Homo sapiens: one gene and its partner. The protein of the gene in region 1 interacts with the protein of each later gene in a pairwise test. Each region holds a gene or a part of one and is shown in the gene's direction. Other genes may lie near its edges.

Region 1 (16,510 bases):
TCCTCCTCTTTTTAGACCATGTAGGGTAACTTCCAGGACGTTGCCATACCATTTGTAAATTGTAATGGTGCTGGTAAGAGTTTCCTTTAGCATGCTAATGTATTATAATTAGCATCTAATGAGTAGTAAGGACGACCAGAGGTCACCTTCACCACCATTTTGGTTTTGGTGGGTTTTGGCTGGCTTCTTTACTGCAATCTGTTTTATCAGCAAGGTCTTTGTGACCTGTATCTTGTGTTGACCTCCTATCTCATCCTGTGACTTAGAATACCTAACTTCCTGGAAATGCAGCCCAGTAGATCTGAGCCTTATTTTACCCAGCTCCTATTCAAGATGGAGTTGCTCTGGTTTGAACACCTCTGACAATCTGATGAGATTTTATGGTTTGTAGGCTGTGACTCCTCACATCCCTTAGATAAGAATTTGGGGCCAGGTGCAGTGGCTCACGCTTGTAATCCCAGCACTTTGGGAAGGTGAGGCAGGCGGATCACAAGGGCAGGAGTTCGAGACCAGCCTGACCAACATGGAGAAACTTCATCTCTACTAAAAATACAAAATTAGCTGGCATGGTGGCAAATTCCTGTAATTCCAGCTACTTGGGAGGCTGAGGCAGGAGAATCGCTGGACCCCAGGAGGAGGAGGTTGCGGTGGGCGGAGATGCCGAGATCATGCCATTGCACCCCAGCCTGGGCAACAAGAGCGAAACTCCGTCTTACCAAAAAAAAAAAAAAAAAAAAAAAAAATTGAGCAAGAGAGAAGACAGGTCAGAGTTTAGTCCTCAACCTCTCCTCAAACTTTCCACTTAGCACTACATGAACCATCTCATCTGGCTGGGAACTTACACAAAACCTGAAGAAAAGAAGATAGGGCCTATTGTCTGATACTAAGTTTTTGCCACACAATCAGAATAGATCTTGAAATAGAAAAGGTTGAATGACTGAAAAGTAAAGAAGGCTACATTTCTTACACACTCGAGTTTGTGGATTGAGATGCCTATTTGCTACATTTGTTACTCAATAAACGTTTGCTGAATGAATAAAATAATTGAATAAATAAATGAAAAATAAAAATTTGGAACAGATCCGTGTTTGCCCAGGGTGAATGCTTTTTGATGAGGGAGCCATAGGCAAGGTGGACTATGTTGATAAAAAGAGTTAAACTCTGTAAAATATTTGAAGAGATTTATTCTGAGCCAACTATGAGTGACCATGGTCTGTGACACAGCCCTCAGGAGATCCTGAGAACATGTACCCAAGGTGGTTGGGGTGCAGCTTGGTTTTATACATTTTGGGAGACATGAGACTTCAATCAAATATATTTAAGAAATACATTGATTTGGCCCAGAAAGGTGGGAAAACTCGAAGCGGGAATTGGTGGGGGGAGAAATGGGTCCTTCCAGGTTATAGGTAGATTTAAAATTTTTCTAATTGGCAATTGGTTGAAAGAGTTATCAATAGAAAGGAATGTCTGGGTTGTCATAAGAACTTGTGGAGACCAAAGTTTTGTCATGCAGATGAAGCCTCCAGGTACCAGGCTTCCAAGAAAATAGATTGTAAATGTTTCTTACCAGACCGAAGGTCTGTGTTGACCTTAACCGGAGAGGTATGAGGCTAGTCGGACCCCCACTTCCCGTCATGGACTGAACCAGAATTTTAGAGTGCCCTGGCCTGGGAGAAAGTCCATTCCGATGGTTGGCGACACGGGGGGCTTAGAATTGTATTTTCGGTTTACATCTAAAAGAAGAACAAAGGTCTAGGCTTCCAGAATCATGGGTTCTGGTGACCGTGGACCTGGAGGTGATGGTAAACTCTCTTTTTGTTCCTGGGGTGTTTTCCTTGGGATCCTTTCTATGAGAAATGTAGGCCGGGTTTTATTTTTCGGGTTCCTAGTGGTGAGGTAAGGTGAGGTGCCTCAACAAGAAAAAGGACCAGTTTTGGCTTCAGGTCTATGTGAAAGCGGTTAACACTGGGCCTGGAATGGTAGATACTCAATAATTAAGGTTACTTCTTATTCTCGGTTCTTTTTTCCAAACCTAGCGCGTCTAATCTCTTCTAGGCCCCGCCCCTTCTGAGCCCCCCCTCCTTCGGCCTGTATGATAGGCTCTTCCTCCATTTCCGGCTTCTGGGACTCGGGTGCACCACGGCTTCCGGTGTCATGGCTGCTTGAAGTCCCGGGAGTCGGTGAGGCGGCTGCAGGTCCCTCCCTGCGGAGCCGCTGGTCCGGCTGGCGGAGATGTGACCGCGGGCCCGGCCGGCCTGCCTCAGGCGTCGCGTCAGCTCCCGTGTCCGTGCCCTTAACCCACACCGATGGCGGGATCCGGCTGCGCCTGGGGCGCGGAGCCGCCGCGTTTTCTGGAGGCCTTCGGGCGGCTGTGGCAGGTACAGAGCCGTCTGGGTAGCGGCTCCTCCGCCTCGGTGTATCGGGTTCGCTGCTGCGGCAACCCTGGCTCGCCCCCCGGCGCCCTCAAGCAGTTCTTGCCGCCAGGAACCACCGGGGCTGCGGCCTCTGCCGCCGAGTATGGTTTCCGCAAAGAGAGGGCGGCGCTGGAACAGTTGCAGGGTCACAGAAACATCGGTAATTGCCGCTGTCTCCTTTCTCTTCTTGCCCAGGTCACAGTCCGAGCACACTCTTCCTCTCGCTGTCTGGCGTTCCATCTTCCTCCCCTTCTGCGGGAGAAGCGGGTTTAGCCCTCTTTATCACCCCATCCAGGCCCCTTTCCCCTTTCACTTTATTACTGTCTGCGGTATAGTGGAGTTGGTGGTCTGCTTTGCCAGGTGTCACATAGATGCTCAGTAAATTGTCTTGCTTCGAGTCTCATCGGAGAATGCCGCATTCATTAGCATACAGAAATATCTTTTCTAGTGAGAGGAGGCATGTCTTTGCTAGATTGTCGTGTCTTGTGTGGAAATTTTTGAATCTTTGCATACCAGTAGAAAATGGGAACTACGTCTGGGCCTTGTGACATCAATGCTAGTAACTCGTATAGCTCACCTATTATATCTTTAGTACGGATTTGGAAGAAATGATGCACTATTCCATGGGAGCCTTTATAGAAGTGTGAAATTTAGGAACACTATACCTTTGCTCTCTTGAGACTGTTTCAAGAATCAGATACTCAGAATGTAAGATATGTAATGATCACTGATGATTGATCTGTGAAAAGGTTTCATTTTCATTACACGACAGAAAGCTTATCATTAGTTATAGCTTTGGTTATTAAAGAAAAGTCTTATTTCCTAGCAAGTATGATGCATAGTTAATTTGAAGAGTGAGTTTTTTTATAATATCATTTTGGAGAAGAATTAACACTAGTGCTACATTTTTTTAGTTTACTAAATGGTCTGTTACTATAACCTTGGTATTGAAAAGGGAAAAATTTTGCAAGCCTAGGGACTTGCCTGATCTCTGCAAGATTAAAATTTCATCCGAAAAGTCTTAATCTCTTTGTTAGTATTTAGATTATAGAGAGCTGTTTATTTTTGTTTTAGTTTTTTTTTTTGAGACAAGTTCTTACTCTGTCACCCAGGCTGGAGTACAATGGCGAGATCACAGTTCACTCCAGCCTCCAATTCCTCCTAAAGCCATGCTCCTACCTCAGCCTCCCAGGTAGCTGGGACTACAGGCACGTAGCACCAAGCCTGGCTAATTTTTTGTAGAGAAGAGGTCCCCTTTTGTTACCCAGGCTGGTCTCCAAACTCCTGGGCTCAAGCAGTCCTCCTGCCTCGGTCTCTCAGAATGCTGGGATCACGGGCATGAGCCACCGTGGCAGACCTAGACTGCTGTTTTGGATGAAGAAGCAATGTTTAGTTTGGTTTTTGCGCATTGTGACATTCCTTTTAAAAGAGTTACTTAATATTTGGGTTTTTACTTTTAAAAATTTCTTTTTTTTTAAAGGACCTCATGATGCAACAGTAAGTTTTATTTATTTATATTTAGGTTTTTTACTTTTAATCATTTTTGCTTGGCACTCCAAGTTCGTGTTCATCACCAATGAGTACTTGGTGAAACACAAATTGAATAATTGTACCATATTTAGTATCTGTGAATGGTAATCAGCTGTTGTAGGCTGTCTCATCTTATTTTTATTAAAATAACCCAATTGCCAAAAGATCTTATTCATGGGAAAAATAAATTACAGTGGAAGCTTGCTCATCAAAGTTATCCTTATCTAGACTATCTCAAATTTGTACTGCAGTTACCTACTTTAGTAGTGACTTACTCTGAGTCTGATTTTTAAAGTATTATAATTTCTTTTTCTAGTGACTTTGTATGGAGTGTTTACAATCCACTTTTCTCCAAATGTGCCATCACGCTGTCTGTTGCTTGAACTCCTGGATGTCAGTGTTTCGGAATTGCTCTTATATTCCAGTCACCAGGGTTGTTCCATGTGGATGATACAGCATTGTGCCCGAGATGTTTTGGAGGCCCTTGCTTTTCTTCATCATGAGGGCTATGTCCATGCGGACCTCAAACCACGTAACATATTGTGGAGTGCAGAGAATGAATGTTTTAAACTCATTGACTTTGGACTTAGCTTCAAAGAAGGCAATCAGGTAAGAAATAACCTTTTCTTTTCTCTCGCAGTTTAAAATGTAGTGGTTGAAGCCAAATATTTTTAAATGACAAGGGTAGTTTAGTAGGGGCTTACAAGTCATTTTAACCTAAATTACTGAAATGCCAGGGGATGCAGTAAATCAAAAGAATTTCAGTGCCACCGTGTAAAAAAAGGACATAATGTTTGGGTCAGGTAGGAGGAGCCAGTGAAGCATGAGAGCTCTGGAATTATTAAAAGTACTTAACCTACATAGAATGGTTTTTTAAATTTTATGCGTGTTTGGCTAATTGCTGAGTTACTATTCCTGGTCTCTTCAGTGTTGGGGCTGTATCTCGTGGCAGAATGCATATGATAGTTCTGCCAAATCCTCTTTTCTCCATGGTTTATCATTTCTTTGCAGTGTCCTTATTATCAGCAGTGCCTAATAGGTAAGAGACAATCCAAAGAAGACTTCTTTATGAGCGCTATATGGAAATGTACAGCTTGCCTCTGAGAACTGCCCAGTTAATGAACCAAAGAATTATGGTAATCAAGGACTAAAAATTTTTAGCATTTAGCTTGGCAGTGGGTTTACTGCACTCTTAGGGAAGTAAATTCACTGTAGAGATGGATAGAAAGGGAGCAGCTTTTTTATTGGTTGTAATATTTACTCATCTTTTTTAGGATGTAAAGTATATTCAGACAGACGGGTATCGGGCTCCAGAAGCAGAATTGCAAAATTGCTTGGCCCAGGCTGGCCTGCAGAGTGATACAGAATGTACCTCAGCTGTTGATCTGTGGAGCCTAGGAATCATTTTACTGGAAATGTTCTCAGGAATGAAACTGAAACATACAGTCAGATCTCAGGAATGGAAGGTAAACTTCACCAGTGCTTTGCTTTGGGGTCCTTACTTTCAACTTAAGAGTATTCAATTTATGATGATTTTTTTTTTTCTTTTGAGATGGAGTTTCACTCTTTCACCCAGGCTGGAGTGCAGTGGCGCAATCTCAGCTCACTGCAACCTCCACCTTCCGGTTTCAACCAATTCTCCTGCCTCAGCCTCCTGAGTAGCTGGGATTACAGGCGCCAGCCACCGTACCCGGCTAATTTTTGTATTTTTAGTAGACACGGAGTTTCACCATGTTGGCCAGGCTGGTCTCAAACTCCTGACCTCATGATGCACCCGCCTGGGCCTCCCCAAGTGCTGGGATTACAGGCATGAGCCACCGCACCTGGCCAATTTATGATGATTCTTTTAGAGAACTCTTGATTGCTGTCTGTTGTCCATACTCCTCTTTTTCTATTGATGATACTTGAATGCCACTACCAACTCCTATGGCTATCAATCTGCTAGTGAGTATTGCATTCTTATTGTTCCTAGCCTGTGGCTTGGCATATAGTAAGTGCTTGATAAAATGTTTGAATGAATGCATTTTCCTGAAGAAACAAAAGTGGTTTCTTTTGTTTACTAACAGTAATATTAAGTTCTAAAGTGTTACTAATACAACCATAGCTTATAAGTTAAATGATAAGTTTTATAGATTATCTTAACTGCTTTACAGTTAAAAAATATTTTTGCTGGGCATGGTGGCTCACACCTGTAATCCCAGCACTTTTGGAGGCTGAGGTGGGAGGCTCACTTGAGACCAGGAATTTGAGACCAGCCCAGGCAACGTAGTGAGACCCCAGTCTCTAGTAAAAAAAAAAAAAAAAAAATTATAAAAGGTATTTTAATACTTGTTTAATATCAAGAACAATAATCATTCCAAAACATTGTATTTATTAAACCTCAAAAAATTAGCTGGGTGTGATGGCACACACCTGTAGTCCCAGCTACCCAGGAGGCTGAGGCAGGAGGATCACTTAAACAGTAGCCTAAAGGATACTGATATTATCACAACATTAAAGCCCCACAATACCTTTGAAAACATACTGTAGTTAATTCCTAATTTATAAATGCATAAAAAGTTCATTCAAATATTAGAGGTTTGGAACTTAGATATTAAGCAACAAGTTTTTGATACTAAGCAACAAGTGTTTTTTTGAGCATCTAATACATACTGTATAGCTATTATAACATATAGTTTTGTTTCTTTTAAACACCTGGTCACTGATTTCCATTGTAGCATTTCCTGGAAGGGATATTTTAATAGCCCAATGTATGTACCTGATGCTTTTATGGGTAAAAATTGCTTTCTTGGGAGTAAAATCAGTATCATTCTTTATTATTGATATCCCAAACAATCAAGAGTCTTACGTATTCTTTCTTGGTGCTAATCCAGACATAGATCAGTTATTTGAATGAGTTTTGACTGTCTTTGAGCCTTTTGGACTATATCTGCTTGGCCTAGAGCTCATCAGAACTAGATCACATTCAAATTTGTGTGAAATTTAGAGGGGTGATGTGTAGTAATGGGATCTCCAATATATGCCTCTAGATAAAACGCTATTTTTCTGTTTTATCCCTTTCTATGGAGGCAAAATTGCCAACTGATTATGAGCATAGGCTCTAAAGTCAAGCTACTAGGGTTTGTATCTTGCCTCCACAAAGCTCTTACTAAGTTATTTATTTAGGTTCACTAAGCCATAGTTTGCTTTCTTTAAAATGAGGATAATAATGGCATCTATCTCATAAGACTACTGAGGTTAATAAAGAAATGATACTTTTAGCAAACAGCTCATGGTAAGTATTTAATAAATTTTACTGATAATGATAGTATCTGTTCTTTTAACTCATGTACACAGTTCTAAATTGTGAGTTAGCATAGTATTCAAGGAGAAAATATATTCTGTAAAGATTTAGAGAATGAGTAATATGACAAATAAGATGTTTTAATACTGCATCATATTCGCTTTGATAGTTTATTTCTGCCTGAAAACCAATTGAAGACTCGTTACGGAGATACCCTGAGTCACCTATTATACATTCATTTTTGCATTAAACTACATTCTTATGTGGTTACTTCGGTATTTATTTTTTATTCTTTCATCTAGTAGATGTTCATAGAGTGCTAGGCGCTGAAAATGAAGAAAAAAATGTTCTTCTCCAGAAGTGTGTAATTATGTATATTATTTCCTCTGTTAAGATTGTAGGCTCTTGCTGGGCACGATGGCTCACAGTTATAGTCCCAGCACTTTGGGAGGCCACGGTGGGCAGATCACTTGAGCCCAAGAGTTTGAGACCAGCCTGGGTAACATAGTGAAACCCCATAGCTATAAAAAATACAAAAAATTAGCTGGATGTGATGGCACACACCTATATTTCCAGCTACGCAGGAGGCTGAGGCAGGAGGATCACTTAAACCTGGGAGGCAGAGGTTGCAGTGAGCTGAGATTGCGTCACTGCACTACAGCCTGGGTGGCAGAGCAAGACCCTGTCTCCAAAAAAAAAAAAAAAAAAAAGATTGTAGGCTCTCAGAAGATAGTGTTTTCTGTTGCATTTTACTCTCAAATAGTGCTATATGCCTAGTATTCAATAAATACAGACTGAATAACCAAAGGAAAACTTTTCTCCGTTTTTTAAGGCAAACAGTTCTGCTATTATTGATCACATATTTGCCAGTAAAGCAGTGGTGAATGCCGCAATTCCAGCCTATCACCTAAGAGACCTTATCAAAAGGTATGTTACACGTACCATAAACTTGCTTTGCATTCATGTACTATGTGAAATGGTACGTCTTTTTTTTCTCTGAACAGATTTATATTATTATTTCTATGTAAGGAACATAAGTAATGAAATAGTTTTACCAAATTTGTTTTCAAAGGAATGCTCTTTTGCTCATAGTATCAGATGTTAAGCTTTTCCTGGCAGCTGCCTTTTCACTGGAAGATAGATTCACTGTACCTTTGGCCACTCATAGCCCTGGCAGTTCTGGATACTTGATGGAAAGCAGGTTTTTAAAGAGAGTCTTTTTTAACTAAAGATTGAGTTTGCTTTTGGACTACTCCCCTCCCCCCAAAAAAAGACCCAAAAACCATTTCGAATAAGATAGTTTTTTATTATACTTTAAATAATTACTCTTGACAACGGTCTGGGGACAGATACAGTTTTTCTGATATCTGAATAGATCCGAAAACAATAGATATTTTGAAAATACAAATGTGTACAGTCGTGTCATTTAACAGTAGGGATCTGTTGTGAGAAATATGTCATTAGGTGATTTTGCCATGCTGACATCATATAGTACTTACATAAATGTAAATGATACAGACTTCTGCCCACACCTAGGCTATATTGCACAGTCTATTGCTCTTAGGCTACAACCTATATAGCGTGTTACTGTACCAAATACTATAGACAGTTGTAATACAATGGTAAGTATTGTGTCTAAACATAGAAAAGATACAGTAAAAATACAGTATAAAAGATTAAAAATGGTATACCTTATAGGGCACTTTACCATGAATAGAGCTTGCAGGACTGGAGTTGCTCTGGGTAATTCAGTGAGTGAGTGGTGAGTGAATGTGAGGGCCTAGGACATTACTGTACACTATAAGACTAAGGGTAAACACTGTATACTTTGCCTACACTAAATTTATTTTAAAATTTTTTCTCCTTTTTTTGAGACAGAGTCACACTCCATCACCCAAGCTGGAGTGCAGTGGCACAATCTTGGCTCACTGCAACCTCTGCCTCCCAGATTCAAGCGATTCTTGTGCCTCAGCCTCTTGAGTAGCTGGAATTACAGGTGCATGCCACCATGCCCGGCTAATTTTTGTATTTTTAGTAGAGACGGGGTTTCACCATGTTGGCTAGGTTGGTCTCGAACTCCTGACCTCAAGTGATCTGTCTGCCTCAGCCTCCCAAAGTGCTGGGATTACAGGTGTGTGCCACCGCTTCTGGCCAAAATTTTTTTTCTTCTATAATAAATTAGCTTAACTGTAACTTTTTTACTTTATAAACTTTAATTTTTCTTTATCTTATTTACTTTTAAAATTTTTTGTTAAAAACTGAGACACAAGCACACCTTAGCCTAGACCTACACAGGGTCAGGATCATCAATATCATTGTCTTCCACTTCCACATATTGTCTTACTGGAATGTCTGCAGGGGCAGTAACATGCATAGAGCTGTCATCTCCTATGTTAACAATGCCTTCTTTTGGAATACCTCACAAAGGACCTGCCTGAGACTATTTTACAGTCAACTTTTTGGGGGAGGGCGATGTACTTTAAAGTAGGAATAAAAAAATATATAGTTATAAATACATAAGCCAGTAACACAGCTATGTATTGTCATTATCAAGTACAGTAGTTTTGTTTACATCTATGTCCTACCGCAACACCTGCATTACCTGCATTACCACAAGCATGTGAGTGATGTGTTGCGATAGGACATTATGATAGCTACGATGTCGCTAGGCGATAGGAATTTTTCAGCTCAGTATTATTTTATGAGATCGCTGTCATATATGTGGTCCATTGTTGACCAAAACGTCATTGTGCAGTATATGACTGTATTATTAAATAGTAGGTTTTTCAGATTTCTAGACTATGGACTGGAAGTGAATAAAATAATTAGTATGCTAGAAAAGTATGGATCCCTTGTCTGAGTTAGAGTAGTATAGTTTCCTTTGAATATTGGCCCTATAAACCTTTAAGTTAGTTTTATTAACTCTTTACTTTGAAATAGTTACAGACTCACAGGACTTTGCAAAAATGTTACAGAGAGGTCCCTACCATTTACCCAGTTTCCCCCAGTGGTAACTTTTTACATAACTGTAGTATATACAGTATCAAAACCAGTAAATTGAAATAGGTATAATCCACATGATTTATTCCTATTTCACCAGTTTTACGCATACTTACTTGTGTGTGTTTTTCAAATTAGTTTTAAATAGCTGTTAGTATCTGATTGATATGAGATATTATAAATTGCATTTTACATTGAAGAGATGGGAATGAAAAATTATAAAATGGATTCTAGCCTGGAAGTTAAATTTTCATCTAAGTTCTAGTATTGACTTTCTTATTTTTATTTTTTTTAAATAATAGCCCCCCCCCCCCCACCATTTTACATAGAATACTAAATTTGGAAACTATAGAAAGTCATCATGAGGAAAATAAAAATTATAAACCCACATTCTAGTGTTAGCACTTTGGTATATTTCCTTCCACTATTTTTCTGCATATTGCATTATATATGCATGCAAGTCGCTGAACCTTTTTTGTTGCTGTTGTTGAATAAAGCACAGACACTAAAAACACTAATTAAACAAATGTGTAGCTTAATCTGTAGGAACATTGTACCCATCTTGTAACTACCATTCACACCAAGAAATAAAACTTTTCCTGTCACCCTGGAAGTCCTGTATGTGTCTCATCCCAATCTCATACATTTTTGTTTCCTTGAGTGTCCTATATATTACTGCATGTGTTTCTGTTGAAAGTTTGATGACTCAGTAATTGCCTTTTCATTAAAAGTCGCTTGGTCTTCCAGCCTGGCCAAGGTGGTGAAACCCCGTCTCTACTAAAAATACAAAAAAAGTAGCCGGGCCTGGTGGCACGTGCCTATAATCCTAGCTACTCAGGAGGCTGAGGCAGAGAATTGCTTGAACCTGGGAGGTGGAGGTTGCAGTGAGCTAAGATCGTGCCACTGCAATTCAGCCTGGGCTACAGAGGGAGACTCTGTCTCAAGAAAAAAAAAAGAGTCACTTGGTCTTCTTGTCTAGATGCCCAGAGGATTTTAACTTTTTCTTCCATGTATAGTAATTTTATCAAAATATATTTTGATTTTGATTGTTCTGGGTCAATATTCTCAGAAATACGGTATGTCTCTTAAATTACAGTTTTTAAATATTTTTTCTGTTCTTTTTGGTTTTCACTTTCATGTCCTCCTCGTCTACATACGTTTGATTTTCTTTGCCTTATATTCAATGTTGCCATTTTTTCCTTTCTTTTTTTTTTTTGAGACGGAGTTTTTGCTCGTTGCCCAGGTTGGAGTACAGTGGCATGATCTCGGCTCACTGCAACCTCTGTCCCCTGGGTTCAAGCAATTCTCCCACATCAGCCTCCCAAGTAGCTAGGATTACAGGCTACTGCCACCATGCCTGGCTAATTTCTATATTTTTAGTAGAGACAGGGTTTCACCATATTGGCCAGGCTGGTCTTGAACTCCTGATCTCGTGATCCGCCTGCCTTGGCCTCCGAAAGTGCTGGGATTACAGGCGTGAGCCACAACGCCCAGCTGCCATTTTATCTTGATTCTATATTATCTCTTTTTCCTTTCTTTTTTTAAGAGACGAGGTCCCACCATGTGCCAGGCTGGTCTTGAACTCAAGTGACCTTCCAGCCTCAGTTTCCCAAAATGCTGGGATTACAGGCATAAGCCACCACCCCCAACCCATTCTTTCTTTTTTTTTTTCTTTTTTTTTGTGATACGGAGTCTCACTCTGTCGCCCAGGCTGAAGTGCAGTGGCGTGATCTCGGCTCACTGCAAGCTCCGCCTCCCGGGTTCACGCCATTCTCCTACCTCAGCCTCCCGAGTAGCTGGGACTACAGGCACCCGCTACCACACCCAGCTAATTTTGTGTATTTTTAGTAGAGACAGGGTTTCACCATGTTAGTCAGGATGGTCTCGATCTCCTGAACTCGTGATCCGCCTGCTTCGGCCTCCCCAAATGTTGTGATTACAGGCATGAGCCACCGTGCCCCGCCTCTTTTTTATTTTTAAAAATATCCTCCTTTTTGCCTACTCTTTAAGACATTATTTGTTATGTTTATTCATCCTTGTATCTCTTATAGTGTAATTTTATTTTATGAAATGATTTTTAAAATGTCTAATTCTTTCCTGAGTTCTATTACCTTATTTTTGTGATTTTCAATTTTTTTTCTGTTGCTCTTTCACATCTTATATCGTTTTTTAAAAATGTCTAGCTCATTTGAGTTTTTTGCAGGGGGAGGAGAAGACAAAGTCTCACTCTGTCACCCAGGCTGGAGTGCAGTGGCACAGTGCTCACTGCAACCTCCGCCTCTCAGGTTTTAGCGTTCCTCCCTCCTCACCCTCCTGAGTAGGTGGGCTTACAGGCGGATGCTGCCAGGCCCAACTAATTTTCATGTTTTTAGTAGAGACAAGGTTTCACCATGTTGGCCAGGCTAGTCTGGAACTCCTGACCTCAAGTGATCTGCTTGCCTCAGCCTCCCAAAGTGCTGGGATTATGAGCGTGAGCCACCACGCCTGGCCATTTAGCTCATTTTGAAATGGTAGGCTCACACCCATAATCCCAGCACTTTGGGAGGTTGAGGTGAGCAGACCACTTGAGGTCAGGAGTTCCAGACTAGCATGGCCAACATGGTGAAATCCCGTCTCTACTAAAAACACAATTTAGCTGGGCCTAGCAGCATCTGCCTGTAATCCCAGGTACTCTGGAGGCTGAGGCAGGAGGATCGATTGAATCCTGGAGGCGGAGGTTGCAGTGAGCCAAGATTGCACCACTGCACTTCAGCCTGAGTGACAGAGCAGGACTCTGTCTTCAAAAAAAAAAAAGTAGATTATAATGGTCATATCTTTCTGGCATACATTATCTGAGATTTATCATTTTGCAGTTTTTTTTTTGTACAATAGATACTTTTCTTTCTCTTCTTTTCTTTTCTTTCAAGGCAGGGTCTCACTCTGTGACCCAGGCTAGAGTGCCATGGTGTGATCACAGCTCACTGCAGCTTTAAGCAATCCTCCCACCTTAGCCTCCAAAGTAGCTGGGACCACAGGCATACACCACCATGCCTGGTTTATTTTTTTTGTAGACAAAGTCACACTATGATGCCCAGGCTGGTTTTGAACTCCTGGGCTCAAGTAATCCTCCTGCCTTTGCCTTCCAAAGTGCTGGGATTACAGGCGTGAGCCACCACGCACAGTCAGTTATAATCCTTTTTATGTTGCCCATTTTTATGTGAAAATTATTTTCCTAAACTTAAAGAAAATATACTTGGGATAACTTTTCTTATATAGGGCTCCCTCTTCTGTTGTTTTGTATAATATTCCCCAAAAAGTGGCTTTTTTCAGAGATCTCCTGGCTCTTCTCTTCTGCTTTTTTCTGGTGCCTCTCTCTCTCCCCTCATCCTGCTCAATTTGGATTGTGTTCCCAAGATTTCTTCTCACTGTGGGACTTTGCACTGAAAGAAAGCTTTGGCTGGTTAGTTTTAAGAGGTCTTAGTGTCTAGATTACTCCAACCTCTTATGATTTTACAAAGAACTGCTTGTATTCACTTAGTATTAGAATGTATAACCCCTTATAGTTTCAGCTGCTTTTCTCCAGCATCTTGCTGTGCAGTCCAGTGAGTACCTTTTGGCTGTTTGGGTTTATTTTTTTTCTGGTTCATCAGATCAATTGTAGCTTTCCTCTGCCTTCTTACACATAGATGCCAATATAGTGCAAATCTTACAACTATTGATAGTTTGGCACTATAGGTTTTTTTTCGTATGTGTGTGTGTATGATGGAGTCACACTCTGTTGCCCAGGCTGGAGTGCAGTGGCACGATCTCGGCTCACTGCAACCTCCGCCTCCCAGGTTCAAGTGATTCTCCTGCCTCAGCCTCCCCAAATAGCTGGGACTACAGGTGCACAGCACCATGCCTGGCTAATTTTTTGTATTTTTTAGTAGAGACGGGATTTCACCATGTTGGCCAGGCTGGTCTCAAACTCCTGACCTGAAGTGGTCCACCCACCTCTGCCTCCCAAATTGCTGGGATTACAGGCGTGAGCCACCACGCCTGGCCTAGTTTTTGTTTTTTAAGTGGCTTATTTTTACTTTATAAATGCTTACTTACAATAAGGAAATAATGGTCTTTTTATGCCACAAACACTTCAGTAGCTATATAGAGATACATTAATTTTATTAGACTATAACAGCATCTCGGTCTTCTTTTTTTAATGACATAAAATTGTATGTATCATGTACAACGTGTTTTAAAGTATATATACATAATGGAATGATTAAATCTAGTTAATGAACAAATGCATTATTTTACATAGTTATTTTTTGTGATGAGAGTGCTTAACATTCACTCCCTATGTTTTTCAAGAATCCAATATATCATCATTAACTAGAATCACCATGTTGTGCAGTAGATCTCTTGAACTTATTCTTTCTATCTAACTGTAATTAGGCATCTTTTGGCTTTGGCCAATGTCTCCCCAAACTCCTCTCTCCTCTAACGCCCCCACCCAGCCTCTGGTAACACCATTCTTCTCTCTACTTCTGTGACATCAACACTTTTTAGAATTCACATATGAGTGAGATCATGCTGTATTTGTCTTTCTGGACCTGGCTTATTATAACACTTAACATGATGCCCTACAGGTTCATCTGTGTTGAAAATGACAGGATTTGCTCCTTTCAGTGGCTGAATAGTATTCCATTGTGTATATATATATCATATTTTCTTTTTTTACTCATCTGTGTTTTTTGTTTTTTTTTTACTTTTTACACATCTGTTTTTTAATTTTTTTTTTAAGCTAACATGCAAGAAATGAACACTTATCTGTTAATAGATACTTAGGTTGATTCCATATCTTGTATATTGTGAATAGTGCTGCAACAAACGTGGGCCTACAGGTATCTCTTCATCATACTGATTTCATTTCCTTTGGATATATACCCAGTAGTGGGATTGCTGGTAGTTCTTTTTTAAAAATTTTTTTTAAGGGGCCTCCATACTACTTTCCATAATGGCTTTACTAATTTATATTCCCACCAACAATGTGTACGGATTCCCTTTTCTTTATGTCTTTTGTCTGTTTGATGATAGCTATTGTAATAGGTATGAGGTGATACCTCATTGTGGTTTTGGTTTTTCATTTTCCTGTTGATTAGCGATATTGAGCATTTCTCATATACTGTTGGCTATTTTTATGTGTTCTTTTGAGAAATGTTTGTTCAGGTCTTTTGCCCATTTTTTAATTGGGCTATTTGTTTCCTTGCTATAAAGTTATTTGAGCTCTTTTTTTCTTTTTTCTTTTTCTTTTTTTTTTTTTTTTTTTGAGACAGGGTCTCGTTCTGTTGCCAAGGTTGTAGTGCAGTGGTGTAAACATGGCTCACTGCAGCCTTGAATTCATAGGGTCAAGTGATCCTGGAACTACAGATGCATGCCACCACACCAGCTAATTTTTAAATTTTTTTGTAGAGAGAGGATCTTGCCATGTTGCCCAGGCTGGTCTCGGACTCCTGGGCTCAAGCAGTCCTCCCACCTCTGCCTCCCAAAGTTCTGGGATTACAGATGTGAGCTACCACACCCAGCCAAATTGAGTTCCTTATATATCTTGTATATTACTCCCCTAGCAGATGTATAGTTGGTAAATATTTTCTCCCATTCTGTAAGTTGTCTCTTCACCCTGTTCATTGTTTCCTTGGCTGTGCAGAAGGATTTTAGTTTGATATAATCCCATTTGTCTGTTTTTGTTTTTGTTGCTTGTGCTGTTGAAGTTATATTCAAAAATTCAGTGCTCAGAACAATGTTGTGCAGCTTTTCTCTTGTTTTCTTCTAGTAGTTTTGGGTCTTACATTTAAATTGTTAATCCATTTTGAGTTGATTTTTGTGTAGGTCAGAGATAAGGGTTTAATTTTATTCTTTGGCGTGTTAATATCCAGTTTTTCCCAGCACCGTTTATTGAAAATACTGTCCTTTCCCCATTGTGTTTTCTTGGCACCTTTGTTGAAAATCAGTTGGTTGTAAATATTTTTTTTTCCCTGGGCTCTCTGATCTGTTTCATCAGTCTGTGTGTCTGTTTTCATATCAATACCATGCTGTTTTGGTTACTGTAGCTTCATAGAACTTTTTTGAAGTCAGGTAGTATAGTGCTTCCAGCCTTGTTCTTTTTTCTCAAGATTATTTTGGCTATTTAGGGTGTCCTTATGGTTTTTGTTATAGATATTGTCCATGGGTTTTTGGTTTTGCTATCTAGTTGCTTTATTATTAGAGAAATTTGATGAGATTCAACAATCATCCCACCGATATCTTTTTTTTTTAATTGTGTTAC
Region 2 (16,856 bases), on another chromosome or scaffold:
GTGACAGTGAGACTCTGTCTTAAAAAAAAAAAAAAGCCTGGGCACGGTGGCTCATGTCTGTAATCCCAGCACTTTTGAGAGGCCAAGGTGGGCAGATCTCTTGAGCCCAGGAGTTGAAGACCAGCCTGGGCAACATGGCAAAACCCCATCTCTACAAAAAATACAAAAATTAGCTGGGCATGGTGGCGTGCACCTGTGGTTCCAGCTACTTGGGAGGCTCAGATGGGAGGATTGCTTGAGCCGGGGAAGCAGAGGCTGCAGTGAGACAAGAGATAACACCGCTGCACTCCAGTTTGGGCAACAGAGTGAGGCCCTATCTTAAAAAAAGAAAAAAAAAGACATTTCTGTGGTAACTCTTCTGGTCCTTCCCTCCTAAAAGCAGCTACTTTCAAGGGCTCTGAAGTCAGGCCTTGGCAACTCTTTTTAAAATACTCTCCAGGGTTCTGGTTTGTTGACAGATTTGGAGGCAACTTCATAGTGAATTCTGCAGAGCCACTCTCTACTAATCCCTCGCTGGAGCTGGAATAACACCACTGCCCTGCGAATTAATTCCAGGAGCAAGCCAGAGGCTTTTCAGAGAAAGTTAGACAGGAAAATGCAGTCAAACAGATTTCAATGTCTAGAAAGTCACTCTTTAGTTTTAACTGAAACAGGAAAATTCACAAATGGTAGATCCAGTCTGAAACTGGATACTATAAGGGTTTTGTCTATTAAATAAAATCCTTTTATCTTTTTCTCCTTAAGTTTCCAACATTGGTTTTTGGGTTATAACATAGAGGGACTAAATTCCTAGTAACTTGTGTCTCAGCGTCTGTTCCCTTTTTGGTCTGCTGTATAGTCTTTTTTGCTTCTCTTTTTTCTTACACAGTAAAATATCTGTGTCAGTTACCCTTAGCGAGTAGATACTGGCAGTGCCATGAGAGGGTCTTCTCAGGTGCTGGTCATCCTTTGTTTCTTGAACTTGAACAGCTGGATTCAGAATCCAGAGTGTTCACCATTACACTGTGGAACTGCTTGAGGAGGGATACTCTTCATATATTGTTTCTTGATCTGAGTGCTGGTTACAGGATGTGTTTAGGTTGTGAAATTCACCAAGAAATATAAAGAAGATTTGTGTACTTTTCTCCATATGTGTGTATTAGTCCATTCTTGCATTGCTATAAAGAAAAACCTGGGATGATAATTCATAAAGAAGAGGTTTAATTGGCTCACAGTTCCACAAGCTGTACAGGAAGCATGATGCTGGCCATCTGCTCAGCTTCTAGGGAGGCCTCAGGAAACATACAATCATGGCAGAAGGCAAAGGGGAAGCAGGCTCATCTTACATGGTGGGAGTAGGAAGAAGAGAGAAAGGGGAGAGGTGCTATACCCTTTATCCAGATCTCATGAGAACTCCCTCAGGAGAATAGCACTAGGAGGATGATGCTAAACCATTGAAAACCACCCCCATGATCCAGTCACCTCCCAGCAGGCCCCACCTCCAACACTGGGGATTACAATTTCACATAAGATTTGGGAAGGGACTTAGATTCCTACTAAAAAAGAAATATATATCAATGTATTATAACCCAGTGAAAAGTTAAAACATCAGTTGTAACAAATGCACCACTGTGGTGGAGGGTGTTGATAATGAGAGAAGCTATGCACATGTGGGTAAAAGGGTATATGAGAAATCTCTGAACCTTCCTCTCAATTTTGCTGTGAGCCTAAAACTACTCTAAAAAGTCTTTTAATAAAATGTGTATTTTTATACCACAGAGGATTTATCAGATTCAAAACATTGAATATGATTAAATGATAAGCCTACATTTGAATTCTCATTAAAACCTTTAAGAATAAATAAAAGAAAAATATAAAATCTAATCATCATCAGTAAGGACAAAAGCTTAAAATGATTTTGTTTTTTATATTTTTATAACCTTTCAAGTTTCAGTTGCTTGGCTGTGCAAGAAAATAAGAGCAGCAGTGTTGGGGGCGAACACAATCACCATTGTTGCCTTTGTTAGCCCTTCAAGGTAGCCCAACACATACAGACACCCTGCCCCAACCCCAGCTCACAGACCTTCCTTGTTCCCCAACTGCTTTTGCTCACAATCTCAATTTCATCCTGTTTCTGGCTTAGTGACGCCGACCACTATCCATTTTTTAAAATTTATTTTTTATTTTTTAGAGACAGAATCTCGCTCTATTGCCCAGGCTGGAGTGCAGTGGCATGATCATAGCTCACTTCAGCCTCAAACTCCTGGACTTAAACAGTCTTCCCACCTCAGCCTCCTCAGTAACTGGGACCACAGGTGTGTGCCCCCAAGTCTGGCTAATTAAAAAAAAATTTTTTTTTTTGTAGTGACAAGTGTCTCGCTATTTTGCTGAGGCTGGTCTCAAACTCATGGCTTCAAGCAATCCTCCAGTCACTGAGATTGTGCACCCGGCTACTCTCCACTTCTGATTCTGGGTTCTTGCATGTGCGTGTGGTCCATGGGCCTAGGCACACAGGATGCTCTACTGTTGATTCCAGGTGTAAGAAATTTCCTGTTAAATATCTTGCCCTGAAGGAAGCACCCTCTGCCTTGAGCACCTTACTTCTTCTAAGTGTCTGTAGGATCTGGCAGTAGTGTTTCCCAAAAGTTCTATATATTCCCCACCCTTCTACCCTAACTTCCTTTTTAAACTTTTAATTGAGTTTTTTTCCCCCCAGCTAAATTAAGTACACTTGCTATTTCAGGGACCATTTGTGATGAATCTTTAAAAAATGCCAATAATTTTATCTTACTTTTTTCATTTCTTTTAAAACTGAGCTTAGGTGCCATGGGCCAGACAACTGATCTACTAATACTGGATATCAAACAATATATTGTTTGACTATTTGTCAGCTGCCCCAAAGTTCAGTAATATGTAATGATCTGTAATTCTGCTGAGGCAGAAACTTGAATCTTGTGCCTTTAAAAGTAAAATAGAGGAGAAGGTCTTTGATGAATGTCCAGAACTTTAGTCTCCAGGGTTGGAGCCAAGAATGGGACAAGCCCCTGTCATAAGATTTATCACGGGCCCAGGGAAGGCTGAGAGATTGTGGTACATGAAGAGCCAGGTGTAGGAAGATAAGTCTAGACACAGGGGTGAGGCAGTAGTATGAGGGCCAGAGAAACAGGTCAGTCAAGGCCATAAACCAAAAGCCTTGAAATGGGACATTGGTAAGGTCCTCTGTTCCTCTCTCTATTCTTCCTCCCTCTAACTTCCCCAACTGTACCCAACCTCTTCATCTAGTATTTTCAAATATGGGTTATTTCTCTTTGGATATTTCATTCTCATTTGAATGCTGCATGTCCAAGTATCGACTTCTTTTGGCCTTTGGCATGTATAAGGAATAAGTCCAATGGCTTGTGTGAATTATCCAATATCAGTATAACAAAATATTTTTTCCGGTAACATGCATTGGCATGAAAAGTAGAGATTAACTCTACTTTTCTCTATTAGAAAAGTAGAAAGCCATATTGAGCTGAGGATTCCAGGTGGCTGGATGGGCTTAATTACAAGCTGGATGATATTCTCTTACACTCCATCCCCCAAGGTGGGGATTTCAAGTTTTTGATTCATCAAAATTAGAAATCTGTACATGTCATGGATCTTTGGAGCTACTAGCAAATAGTCAAACAGCAAATTAGCTATGGAATCTAGGTACTTCTAGCTACCTCTGTGGGTGGAATCCATAAAATTGAGTTTTATGCGCTTTACTATGCATAAGAACCTTGACAATTCTTATGCACAGGAAAGTCTGAGACCCCTTCTCCATGTTCCTTCTTGCTTACCCAGACAACTCTTCTTTCCTTATGGTTAATGGCACAATTTTTTTTTTTTTGCCAGCTTTCCAGAATATATTTAGAGCCATCTTTGACGTTTTCTTCTCCCTCATCCCTTGTAAATAATTACTCATTAAATATTGATTTTTTTCTCCCATTCCTACTCCAGCCATAGAGTAACTAGAACAAGCATTTCAGAGTTTTGTATGTAAAATGTGTATCAGTTTTCTGTTGGTACATAAGAAATTACTACAGATTAACTGGATTTTAAGCAACACCTATTTATTAGTTCACAGTTCAGTAGGTGAGAAATCTGGCACAGTGTGGCTGCTTTCTGTTCAATGTATCAGGTATTGGGAGGCTGAAATCCAGGCATCAGCCAGCTGAGTTCTCCTGTAGAGGCTCTAGGGGAAAATTTGCTTCCAAGCTCATTCAGGTTGGTGGAATTTAGTTCTGGCTTCCCTTATACAACTAGTTGGAGAAATTTCTCTCCTTTTAAGGAGCTCATATGATTAAGTAGGCCTATCTAGATATTTGTCCTACCTCAAGATCAACAACCTTAATTACATGTGCAAAATCCCATTACAGCAGTGTCTAGATTAGTGTTTGGTTGAATAATGGGAAGAAGGTTTATGTATATCAGGGGCTGGGGATCTCAGGGGCTGTAATGGTTAATTTTTTGTGCAACTTTACTGGGCCACAGGGTGCCCAGATATGTGGTCAAACATTATTCTGAGTATTTCTTGAGGGTATTTTTGATAGTTTAACATGTAAGTCAATAGACTAAAGTAGATTGCCCTCTCTAATATAGGTGGGCCTCATCCAATCAGTGGAAGGCTTCAATAAAACAAAAGACTGTTTCTCTCTTGTATGAGAGGGAATTTCTTCACCTGAATGCCTTCAGGCTGGAACAATTTTTTTCCTGACTTTAAACTCAAACTGAAACAAACATCAGCTCTTCCTGGTCTCAAGCCTACCAGACTTCAAACTGGAGCTATACCATTGGCCCTGTTTCTCAGATCTTTGAACTTGGACTGCAAATACACCATCATGTCTCCTGGGTTTTCAGTTTCCCAACTACAGATCTTGGGACTCATCAGGCTCCATAGTCATGTGAGCCAGTTCCTTTTAATAAATCTCTGTCTGTTTTTGTCTCTTTCTGTCTGTACATATATGTATATTATGTACATATATGTTCTCTTTTTCTGAAATAGGGGCCTTCTTAGAATTCTGCCTACCATATAAGGGAAACAAAATTCTAAGAGCTTTGTATATATTTCCTCAGTTAAGTCTTTCAACAACCCTATGAAGCAAGTACCATTATTATTTCTATTTTACTGATGAGGAAACTGATAATCAGAGAAGGTGAGTCTTGCTCAAGATTATGTGGGTATTTTCTCATAACACTCTATTACTCATGGAATTCCATGCCTATATTCCTTCAGCTGTCTTCCAAATGGCTTTCCTATCTTCAGAATCTTCCTCCTTTAATTCATCCTATATTTCTTGGCCAGATCAATGTTAATTAAAATTTTTTTTCATTACGTCTCTTTCTGAGGTGTAGAGAATTATACTTCACCATATGTGCTACATGGCATAGCTGCGATGTGTCAGAAATTGAGCTTATTCTCAAATATGAAAATCCATTTAGCTATATTCCTTGGCACAGGTTTTATTATGCTAACTTTGTACTGTAATGGTGTGTGAGGCGGCAGGAGGTGGAGGGGCAATTATAACACAAGTCATGGAGTATGTGCAGATTGTATTTTCCCAAACTCAAAATCTCAGAGGACTTTAATGATAAAAAGTAAGAGTTTTAAAAACAAATTTGATACATTAAAATAAAAATGTAAAAGCTAGCTATTATTTTGTTGCCCATATTCATATGAGAAATGGCAAACAGAATGAATGAATCAAATTGATCTTTAAGAAATGAATAACTTCTAAAGCTTATGTAAGAATACACTACATGAGCAATACATTTGCTCACTCATTTACTCACTCAGTAAATAGTTGTTGAATGCCACTATGTGCCAAGCACCATACCAAGCAAATATGTTTACTTTCTCCAGTGAGGTATTGTAGCAGCTTCCTCAACTGGTTTTCCTGCCTCCTCTCTCACCCTCAATGCCTACCCGAGTCCAGTATCCACGCAATGGCCAGAGTGATTTGGCCAAAATGATTGGCCAAAGATCAATAGAGTGATTGTGATCTGTTTTGATCACTCTGCTGATCAAAACTTTCTAATATATTTTCACTAATTCAGAAGAGGATCAGAATCCCATGGCCCATAATGTGGTCTGAAAGCCCCACTCCACTCTGTATTCAACTCCATCTCCTCCACTGCCCCTTTTACTCCCTCACTTTAGTCAGCACCAACCTCCTTCCCATGTCTCCTGGAAGTTTCTCATGGGCTGCTCATTCTTTCGGCTTAGAAGCTCTTCCCCAGACAACTACCCCTTACTTTACTCAGATCGTCTACACAGATGTCATTTCATCAAAGATGCCTTCTCTGACCACCTGAACCAAAACAGCAACTTCCCCCTACCACCCTCTCCACTTTAGTCTTTTACTTTTCTTCCCAGTACTCAATCACCACCTGATATATAATACATATTTGAATGTATTATAGCTGGCTTGTCATCCCTTCCTCTACTTAGGAGTCAGCTCCTAGAAGCTGCATTTTATCTATTGCATGATTTCAGACTGGAATTATACCTGACACACAGTAGTGTATTCTTACATACTTGCTGAATAAGTGAATGAACAAATGTAAAACCTCGATTTCTTTGAGGCATTTATTTATTTATTTAGAGACAAGATCTCACTCTGTCACCCAGGCTGGAGTGTAGTGGGGCGATCTTGGCTCACTGCAACTTCCACCTCCCAGGTTCAAGCGATTCTCCCACCTCAGCCTCCTGAGTAGCTGGGACTACAGGAGCGTGCCACCACAGCCAGATAATTTTTGTATTTTTAGTAGAGACAGTGTTTTGCCATGTTGCCCAGGCTGGTCTTGAACTCCTGGGCTCAAGTGATCCACCTGCCTTGGTCTCCCAAAGTACTGGGATTATAGGCATGAGGCATCGCTGGATGACACCATTTTATTGACCCTTTTGTAGAGAAATAGTGTGTGTGTTTGTGTTGCGTGAGTGCAGAAGTCTGGGAAGGGTGCTGCACAGCATTGTCCAGCGTTGGGGAGATGTCCCTGGCCCGTGCAATGACTCTTTGTGTCTTCTGATATGTAGATCCTTTGGAAGTATGCCTTTCTAGTAACAGCCATCTTGTCTATGGCTAATAACAGGCTCTTGGGAAATGCTCAAGAAGCTGGCATGATTTTTTTAAAAAAATATATAGTTCTTTTTATTACTGCTATATGCTGGGCACTTTAAATACATGCTGGGCACTATATTTAGCACTTTACATACATCCTTACAACTCTGCAAGATAATCATTAATATTCCCAGTTTACCAGTGAGTAGATGGAAATTAAATAATTAGCTTGAAGTCACTCCACTGGTAAGCAGTACCAGTCATTATTGAAATCCAGATCTATGGAATTTCACAGTCTGTGATACTTACCGAACTAGAAAGCTGCATAATGCTGGACATAATGTTTTGTATCAGATTCTAGTTTCACCACCATGATAGGTGGTGGCAGGTCTCAGACAAGGCTTTAAAATTCCCTTTCTCCTGCTTCTTGTGTCAAGGACACAAGTATCTCTTTATATTCCTTGCCAAGGACAAGAAGATCTCTTCCATGGAGCTTAGAGGTTAAAAGAAAAAAAGTTCTGATAAGGATTCACTTACTGGAAGTAAGAAAAAAATTTTAAATTGCTTTTTCTAATTACAAAAGCAATATATATGTATCATCTCAGGACATTTCTTGGGCTAAATAAAAACCTAAGGCAGCAAATGGGTGGTGGTAGTGGTGTGGTTTTGAGGATGAGAAGAGGTGGTCCAATCCCTTACTTAGATCTTTCTTATGATGTTATAGGGGAGCCAGAGATCACCTCCAAGCTCCCTTTTACCTCTTAATGAGCTCTCCAGTTGTATCTAGAAACCACACTGACACCAGGAAGATTACCAGGAGAAAAGTATACACATTTTATTAGTTTTATGTGCACATGGGGATCTTCACAAGAGAGTGAAGTCTGAAGAAGTGGCCAAAGTAAGATGCTTTTATTCATTTTTTTAGGTAAAGAGAGATAAATTTGAGAAGAAAAGCCATGACAAAGAAAATCTGGTTAAGGTGTTACAGTAGGTAGCTAGTCAGGCATGAGCAGGGCAGGAGAGGGCTCCCCCTCATACACACACACATCAGGAATGTCAGGCAGCCATCAGGTGATGGTCAGGTGGTTGTTAATTGTCTCTCTAAAATAATAGTTGGTCACAGCCGGCACCAGGGAAAGGCAGTCTCCTAATAGAAAACACTTGAACTGTTGATCAGCAGCTTCCCGATAAGATCTTAGGAGTTGGGCAAGTGGGCTCAAGTATGCGCCTGTGGACAGCTCACTCTAAGGGAAGAATCAGGAGAGAAGTAATGCAAAGCCCCAAAAGCAAGACCCCAGAAGTATGCCAACGTATAAAACCCCAGGTCAAAAGGTCAAACTACGCACTAGATCTCTCAAGTCACTGGCTTGGCCCTCTTCCAAGTGTACTTCCTTTCATTCAAAGCTTTTTAATAAACTTCACTTCTGTTCTAATACTTGCCTTGGTCTCTCCTTTTGCCTTATGCCCCTCAGTCGAACTCTTTCTTCTGAGGAGTCAAGAATTGAGGTTGCTGCAGATCTGTAGGAATTCACTGCCTGTAACATACTTTGGGGCCGTGTCTCGGATATGGGCAGCTGCTAACATATTTTGGTGCCCTGTGACTCGAGTTAACTTCCACAGCTCACAAAGGCAGTAACATTTTCTAGGGAGTCACTAGAAGATATATGTAAAAAATCTCCTATATCTCCTAGTGGAAGATAGGGTTACTTCGTTAAGAATGTTTATTCAGGTCCACTGCAGCCTTCAATTCCAAGCCTTTGGTGATAAAGGCTATTTTCTCACCGTGGTAGGGAGAGGATGCCCATCCCAGAGAAATCTTTGTGGCCTGCTGCATCGAAGAGGCAGGTCAGCTTGCCCTTTCTGAAACTACCATTTCTCCAATGTTTTCCGCTCGAAATAATCAATATACCAATTAGGCATATTTTGGAATGGCACACCTTCACTCCTTCAACGTCTTGTCCTGGGTACTTACCGAGATGACCAAATTTGAGTAGGTGTACAGAGTCCTAAGTATATGGAGTTACTTCATTTGTCCCTCTGAAAGATTGCAAATCGGACTAGCAATTCCCAGGGGGAAAATTCTAAGCAGTCAAAAAAGGACTCACAACCCTATTGCCGAGGACTAAAAGTATCAGCCCAATACAAAACATAGAACTCAAATTAAAGGGGAAAAGACTATCATGAGAACAAACAGAAGAGGAATCGGGGCTCCCTTCCCGCTCTTTATTGCCCTTAACACACTGTCTACGCTCCTTGTGCTCTCTATCCCGTTTTTAAATGTCCCTACACTGGTAAAAGCTGTCGCCTCGCTTCATTTCACTACCGCTTCTCCCAGCGTTAGCAGCACCTCCAGGCTCACAGTGCACTTGGTAGGGAGGACAGGTATTTATCCACGCGGCCCAAAGCTGGGTTTCGGTCGCTGGATAACACCTATTATTGACCCTTTTGTAGAGATAGCGTTGCGTGTGTTTGTGTTGCGCGGACGCAGAAATCTGGGAAGGGCGCTGCACAGCGTTTTCCAGCGCTGGGGAGACGCCCCCGGCCCCTTAGTCGCACCTGCCTAGGTGTGCTCGCACGGTGGGACCAGGGTGGGCAACAGATTTCGCCCCGGGCAAGTTCGCACGCGGAGCTCCCAGCGCCGCGGGTCTCGGAGAAGACGCCTGCCTCCCCGCGCATTTCCGGTGACGTGCTGCCGCGCCGCCCAATCAGCGCCCGCAGCCCGCGGGCTTGGGATTCAAACTGCTGCTCCTCCGGCTGGCGGGGATCAGCGCTGGCGCGGCTGCGGCCGCTGCTGCCTACGCGCCATGGAGCATCGCATCGTGGGGCCCGGGCCGTACCGAGCTACCAGGCTGGTGAGTGAGTGTGCTGGGGCCTGGGCGGAGCACCCGGTGCCGCGAGCCCCCACTCAGCGCGCGGACAGAGTGCTTGTCAGTCTTCGCTTCCGCAGGCCAGCGGGGCTCGGGTGTGGAGCATTTCAGCTGGGACTACTGGGGCTGCCTTTTAGTGGACGAGCCTCAAAGAAAGGCTAACGGGGCCCAGAGCTCAGCCGGCCGGGGGTTAGTGCAGCTTTGTCCATGAGATGTTGACTGGGTTCTCGGCAGTAGATGGCGCCTCTCTGTTTAAAGACCCCAAGACCAGGCTGTTCCCTGCCTTTTGTCCTCTGGAATCTAACCGACCCGGTCGGTAACCTGAGGGGCCACCACGTACCCCGTAACGCTCAGCGTTCGCGGCAGTCCAGGCAGGGCGTGTCTCCTTCCTGAGTGACACCTGATGATACCTGACGGGGTATTCGAATAAACGGTGCCCAGAACAGAGGGGCATCGCGCTGGCCGCATTTCCGGCCCCTGGCGTTTCTGTTTCTGTCAGCACCGATCCAGATGAAGAGCTGGCCAGGACAGATGTTTTAGGAGAGTCTTTGCCGACTCTGAGTTCCTGTTTTTTTTTTTTTTTTTTTCTGGGAGAAAAGCTTTGGTATTGAGGTGTACTTGGTCTGCTTTGACTTGGAACAATAAAGGGTGACAGTTTGGTAATGTCTGTGGCAAGTTTTTAGAGGACTTTCTGTGGAAGTGTAATGGTAATTTGGGAGGACAGTAACTTGCTCCTTGGTCTGCCGACCTCTCTGGCCACATTTAACATGGGAATTACTCTCATAGTTCCATGCATTATAATGAATACACAGGAAAAGATGGGAACTAACATCCAAACTCTTACTCAGCTAGACTCATGGAAGAGGTGAGGATGCTGGGATACAGATAATGTAAATAGAGTTTCCTTTTCTTTCCAAAGCCAGCCACACACTATACCAGTAAGTCAAGCCAGAGCTGAGAAGGCCAGCTTCTGGAAGAGAAATCATAGTTGGGGCTGATGGGTCTTTACTTTTTAAATTTGGCTCATAGATCGCTTTGAGAATCTGATGAAGATTAAGGATCTTCTTCACAGAAAACTGCACATGGCACATACTCATGAAATTTTACATGATTTAAGGGGATGGATCGCTTGAGGTCAGGAGTTCGAGACCAGCCTGGCCAACACAGCAAAACCCCGTCTGTACTAAAAATACAAAAATTAGCTGGGCATGGTGGCATGCGCCTATAGTCTCAGCTACTCAGGAGGCTGAGGCAGGAGAATCTCTTGAACCTGGGAGGCAGAGGTTGCAGTGAGCTGAGATCGCGCCATTGCACTCCAGCCTGGGCAACGAGCGAAACTCCATCTCAAAAAAAAAAAAAAATAATAAGGAGATTGGGAGAGTCTGTGACATTGTTTTATTTGGCATAAAGACAAGCATTTTATTTGCTCATCCTTTGGATCAGTAATCTGGGCTAGACTCATGTCAATGGTTCTTTTGTGGAGGTCACTCATGTGCCACAAATAATGTGACTTGGCTATTACTGGATGATGGAAGATGGCTGCTTGACTTGGTCCTGGCTGTTACCTGGGCCAGATATCTCTAACAGGTTATCGGAGGCATCTTCACGTAGTGGTCTCATGGTTCCAACGTAGCTAAAAGGAAGTTTCAGCTTGTGACTTTTTCTTCAAATCTCATTGGTCAAAGCAAGTTAAACAGCTAAATCCAGATTCTAGAAATTCAACTCCACTTCTTGATGGGCAGGGTGGCAAAGCCACAGAGGTGCATGTGGAGAGGATGGGAAGAATCATTGCACTCATCTTTGCGAACACTCTATACAGTATAGACACCAGAATGATCTGGGGTCAAGAATATTGATAAGTCTAACTTTAGGGAGGAAAATAAGGCATTTGATCATTCCCTTCACCAATTTATTTACAGCACTTACACAAGGAAAACATAGCAAGGCTGTGGTTCTTGACGTGACTAGTCTTCATTCTTCCTGCATTAGACTAAAAAAAAAATACCTCATAATTGGAATTGTATTTTAGTCTCATATTCACAGAATTGTATGAGGTACTTCTTTTCATGGATGCAGAGGGTCCATATATAGATAGTGCTGGATTCTTGAGTCACATTAAAATATTATCAAAGGAATTTGTTTAATTAAAAAAAGGTGCTCTCTGCTCTCTAGAAGTCTTCAGTCCCTAACAAATAATATTCAGGCTAAATTTAGGTTGATTAAGTTAAGAAGATAAATGACATGGATAATTAATGAAACAAACACCTCAGTTTCACCAGAATTTCCCAGGTAATCAATTCAGTTCTCAACTTCATAGTGTTTGAGGAACATAATATTAAACTAAGATGTGGAAAACAGAAAACAATAGCCAATTTTTTTTTTCAAAAGTGAGTATTCCTGCTGTCAGTGATTGCAGCCAACATTGAAGATGCTTCTTTCCATTGTAAAGTCTGTAATTGTTTCCCCAGTGTAATTCAGCTGTGACTTAAAGCTTTTGCTAGGTAAATCATATATTTAATAGTTTGAGACTAGTCCTCTTTTTACTTGTTGGACCTAGTTGGCCTTTCCTCCCTCTATCTGCAGCATACAATTTCTCCCTTTTCCCATCATGCTCATTCTAAACTTTCTTCAGGGGAAGCTTGGTAAAAATCTATTGGGATACAAAAACTAGGCCTTTATTTTCTCCTTTCATGGCTCACTTTACTTTCTCAAAGCATGTACAGCTTTAGAAAAAGCTCTTTGGTGCTTTTTCTAAAGCACCAAAGTCTTATTTGAAAATAACATTTTGTGGATTAGGTAAAATGTTATGACAAAAGTCAAATGACAGCCCCAACTCATGATAAATGTGAAGCTAGTTATCCATTTATACATTTTCACTGAAATAACTTTCATCTTTGTAAACTTGGTATAAATAGTTCATTCAAGTAGAGAGAAAAATTTTTTTTCTAGAAACTGCTTAAATCTTTGAACTTATTCTGAGTTATATATATGGTCTGATGCAACTGATAAATTTTAAAAGACATACAGCTTTCATTGAATCTGAGAGTTAGAATGGCAAGATCACACAACGAGGTTGTGGCAAGTGCAAGTAGATCTAGGAGTGGTTGTCACTGAACTCCCAGACCAGTCAGTTTTCTTTATAGCACCGCTATCATAATATTTTTGGTACTAAGAAGAAATGAAATGGAATATCCTGGAGAAAAGAACAGGATGCACAGCAGTAGGTGTATGTCTTATAGTTTGCCTCATCATGTTAAGAAAAAACAATTGTGTGATTTTATTTTTTCCTGAGAAACTAGGGGACTGAAATTAATAAGTAGAGCAAAACAAAAAGTGTTTTAAAATCATAAAACAAATCTGTTTTGTTCCATTTGTTGTAAAGATTCTCTTCAAATATAATGTCATGAAAAAAAAACTCAAGCTCTTTCTTGTTATTTATTGACAGAGGATATTTTGTTTCCAAAAGTGACTGAGAATGGTATATTGTTAGATTATTTAAAGATACTTATTTTTCTTTCTGAGCAGAGTAGCCAAATAACCCCTTAGTTATATTTGGAAATAAGTGGGAACAGAGACCAAAGTGACCTCAGTAGGCTTTAAAAAATCTAAAGTATTTCATATATTAAGGAAATATAACCCATAATGATAAATGCCATTCAAAATCAAAATGAGTAAATTCAAAAGTCTATTTATAAATGCTCTTTTTAAAAGGGGCAATGAGACTTTGATAAAGATGTTTTATTAGACATTTTCTAGTATGAAATAAAAGTCAGTAGCAATAGAGCAGTTAATCCATTCTGAATCCTAATGGATTTTTTTTTCCTGTGTGGGAGAATGCAATGAATTGAAAGCTCATGCTGAAGAGTAAAATTCTGAGAACTGAAAAAAGTTTTCCCTCACAAAAAGAAATGAACTTCACAAAAAGAAATTTTCACGCTGGGTGCGGTGGCTCATGCCTGTGATCTCAGCACTTTGGGAGGCCGAGGCGGGTGGATCACGAGGTCAGGAGATCAAGACCATCCTGGCCAACATGGTGAAACCCCGTCTCAACTAAAAATACAAAAATTAGCTGGGTGTGGTGGCACATGCCTGTAATCCCAGCTACTTGGGAGGCTGAGGCAGGAGAATCACTTGAACCAGGGCGTCGGAGGTTGCAGTCAGCCGAGATCACGCCACTGCACTCCAGCCTGGGCACCAGAGCGAGACTCTGTCTCAAAAAAAATAAAAAAAGAAAGAAGTTTTCACATTCCCTTACAAAGAAGACAGGGGCCTTGTCCTACCAGGGATTTATACTTGGTATTAATTGACTGTAATGACAACTGTATGGTATTACACAGGAACAGATAGTCGCTCAGTGGGATAGAAACAATCAAGAAGTGTGATATGTAAGGTTACTTAATAATATTTCTGTTCATTTAGAAAAGCATGGCATAATTGACTCTTGATATGGTTTGGACGTTTATCCCCTCCAAATCTCATGTTGAAATGTAATCCACAGTGTTGGAGGTGGGGCCTAGTGGAGGTGTTTGGGTCACTGGGGCAGATCACTCATGAATGGCCTGTTGCTGTCCTCATGACAATGAGTGAGTATTCACTCTGAGTTCATGTGCGATCTGATTGTTTAAAAGTGTGGCACCCTGTCCCTCACTCTCTCTTGTTCCCCCCTTGCTGTGTTATGTGCCTCCTTCTGCCTGCTTCCGCTTCACCTTCTGCCTTGAATAAAAGCTTCCTGAGGCCTCACCAGAAACTGAGCAGATGCTGGCACCATGTTTCTTGTACACTCTGCAGAACCGTAAGCTGATTAAACCTCTTTCCTTTATAAATTACCCAGTGTCAGGTATTTCTTTACAGCAACGCAAGAATGGACTAACACAACTCTCCATCCAGAAAAAAATAGAGATCCCCTGCCTCCCACCATATAAAATTCAGTTAAAGGTTTACATATTAAAAAACATACCCTCTAAAATATTAAAAGGAAATTTTGATAAATATTTTAATACCTCAGGATAGGGAAGCTTTCTTAAGAGAATAAACCCTGAACTGATAAAGAAAATAGATAATTATTTCCTTATAAAAACATCAACATCTACAACAAAATCATTGTATAGCTAGAGACTATGTAAAGAAATTGATAGGCTAAGATAAAACATTTGTAACATATAACAAAAAGGTTTAATATTCTATATTCATCAGTACATATTAAATGGGTATACTATATGTCAGGCACTGGTCTTTGTTGTGAGGATATTGAGCTGAACAAAATCGATTAACTTTCCTGACTTCTGTGCCCTTTAAACATTAACAGATTAAACAGTTCTTAAAATTGATTTTAAAAAAGAGATAACCCAATAGAAAAATGGCAAATCTCAGAAGAAGAAATGAATATGACTAAAGGTAAAGATATGAAAATGCAAACAAAATATGGATCTATCATTTCTTTTACATAGATTGGCAGAAATGAAAGAAATGATAACATCTAGTGTAGGCCAAAGTGTAAGGCTTTAGGCTCCCACATTGTTGGTGGAAGTGTGAATTGCTACAACTGATTTAAATATGCTGATACTTTTTAGAAGTCTATCAAAAGTAAACAAAAGCCTTGGTACTTTAGGTTATATAAACAAGTATAACTTGTAACATATTTGTAAAAATTGAACTGGGCAGAACTTGGATGACCATTTGTTAGAAAATGGCAGAATAAATTATGGCACATTCTTAAGAATGGGCTAGATCTGCAGGTATGACGCAGGGAGGTATCTGTTAGGTGCAAAAGCGTGTTTTAGGATAACATATACAACATGATTGATCTCATTTTTTAAAATGGCAAACAACAATAAATGACACACCTACAAAGGAAAAATTCTGTCTATGTGTCTGTATGTGATAGGTATGGAGTAAGACATGCAAACTCTTTTGTGTATACTTCTGTATTTAATTTGTTTGTTTCAATGAGTGTTATTACTTCTGTAATTAAAAGAACAACAGAACTGCTAACCAGACTGGGTCAATTAGTGGATATACCTAGTGATATTTGGAAATATTGGGTCCCAGAGAGCCATGCCTTCATTATGTTTATGTAATGCATAAGGTATTATGCATTAGGTAATTTTAGTTCATGATTATGATTGTTCAACCAACATAAACAAAAATCTTTTTTATTACCCCTTCCCCCGGCCCTACATACTTGATTATGCCTTTTCGGTACAACAATCTAATGATAAATGAAAGCTAGGTATCAGGGCATGTATTAAAAAAATCAATAATCAATGATTAAAAATATGTGAAAATTGTTTAAAGGTATGGTAATATCCATAGGTACTTGGTATAGTGAAATGACTACTTGAAGAAAAGTCCGTAGCACAGGATTCCAGATCTTATTCACAGACTAAGTACCTGAATGACATTTGCTAAGTTGTGTATCCTGCTAAGGTCTTGATTTTGTCCCAAAGATTTTTTCCAGCTCTAGAATAGATTGAACCTTATAATTTAAGAGATATCCTGGACATTTTATATATTATCCTTAAATTTGAGGAACGCATTTTTAACAAAGGACTTTTATAGTCATGATCTCATTTGATCTTACAATAACCTTGTAAAGTGGGTGGATAGGTAGAGAAGTTAAATCAGCGTTCTTGGACTCTTTATGGGCTTCCTTTCTACTATTCATTATTTAGCCTTTGCTCTGCTTTTCCTGTTTACATACTTTCCCTCCTTCATCCACTCACTTGGTTTCTTCTCCAACCTCCCTACTCTCTTCCACATCCAGTTTACCACCCCAACCAACCAGTTCATATTTGCCAACTTTCATGTGGGTAATAATTTTAGTATGTGAACATGTGCATATGTGTATGTATGTGTTTTTGTTTTTAGGTGTTAATTAGGCATAATGTACAGAAAAATGCTCAAAAAATTTGTTGAGTTGTATAAA

The links.
Region 2: the proteins of UHMK1 (region 1) and DEPDC1B interact in a two-hybrid assay, tested with the Homo sapiens proteins (one study listed by BioGRID).

What each region holds. Positions count from the first base shown.
Region 1 is NC_000001.11:162,495,695-162,512,204, forward strand, and holds the start of UHMK1 (serine/threonine-protein kinase Kist), read left to right. Parts: upstream 1-2,123; 5' UTR 2,124-2,306; coding exon 2,307-2,574; intron 2,575-4,260; coding exon 4,261-4,553; intron 4,554-5,218; coding exon 5,219-5,410; intron 5,411-8,059; coding exon 8,060-8,154; intron 8,155-16,510. UniProt on the Homo sapiens protein: Upon serum stimulation, phosphorylates CDKN1B/p27Kip1, thus controlling CDKN1B subcellular location and cell cycle progression in G1 phase. May be involved in trafficking and/or processing of RNA.
Region 2 is NC_000005.10:60,693,106-60,709,961, reverse strand, and holds the start of DEPDC1B (DEP domain-containing protein 1B), read left to right. Parts: upstream 1-9,795; 5' UTR 9,796-9,868; coding exon 9,869-9,916; intron 9,917-16,856.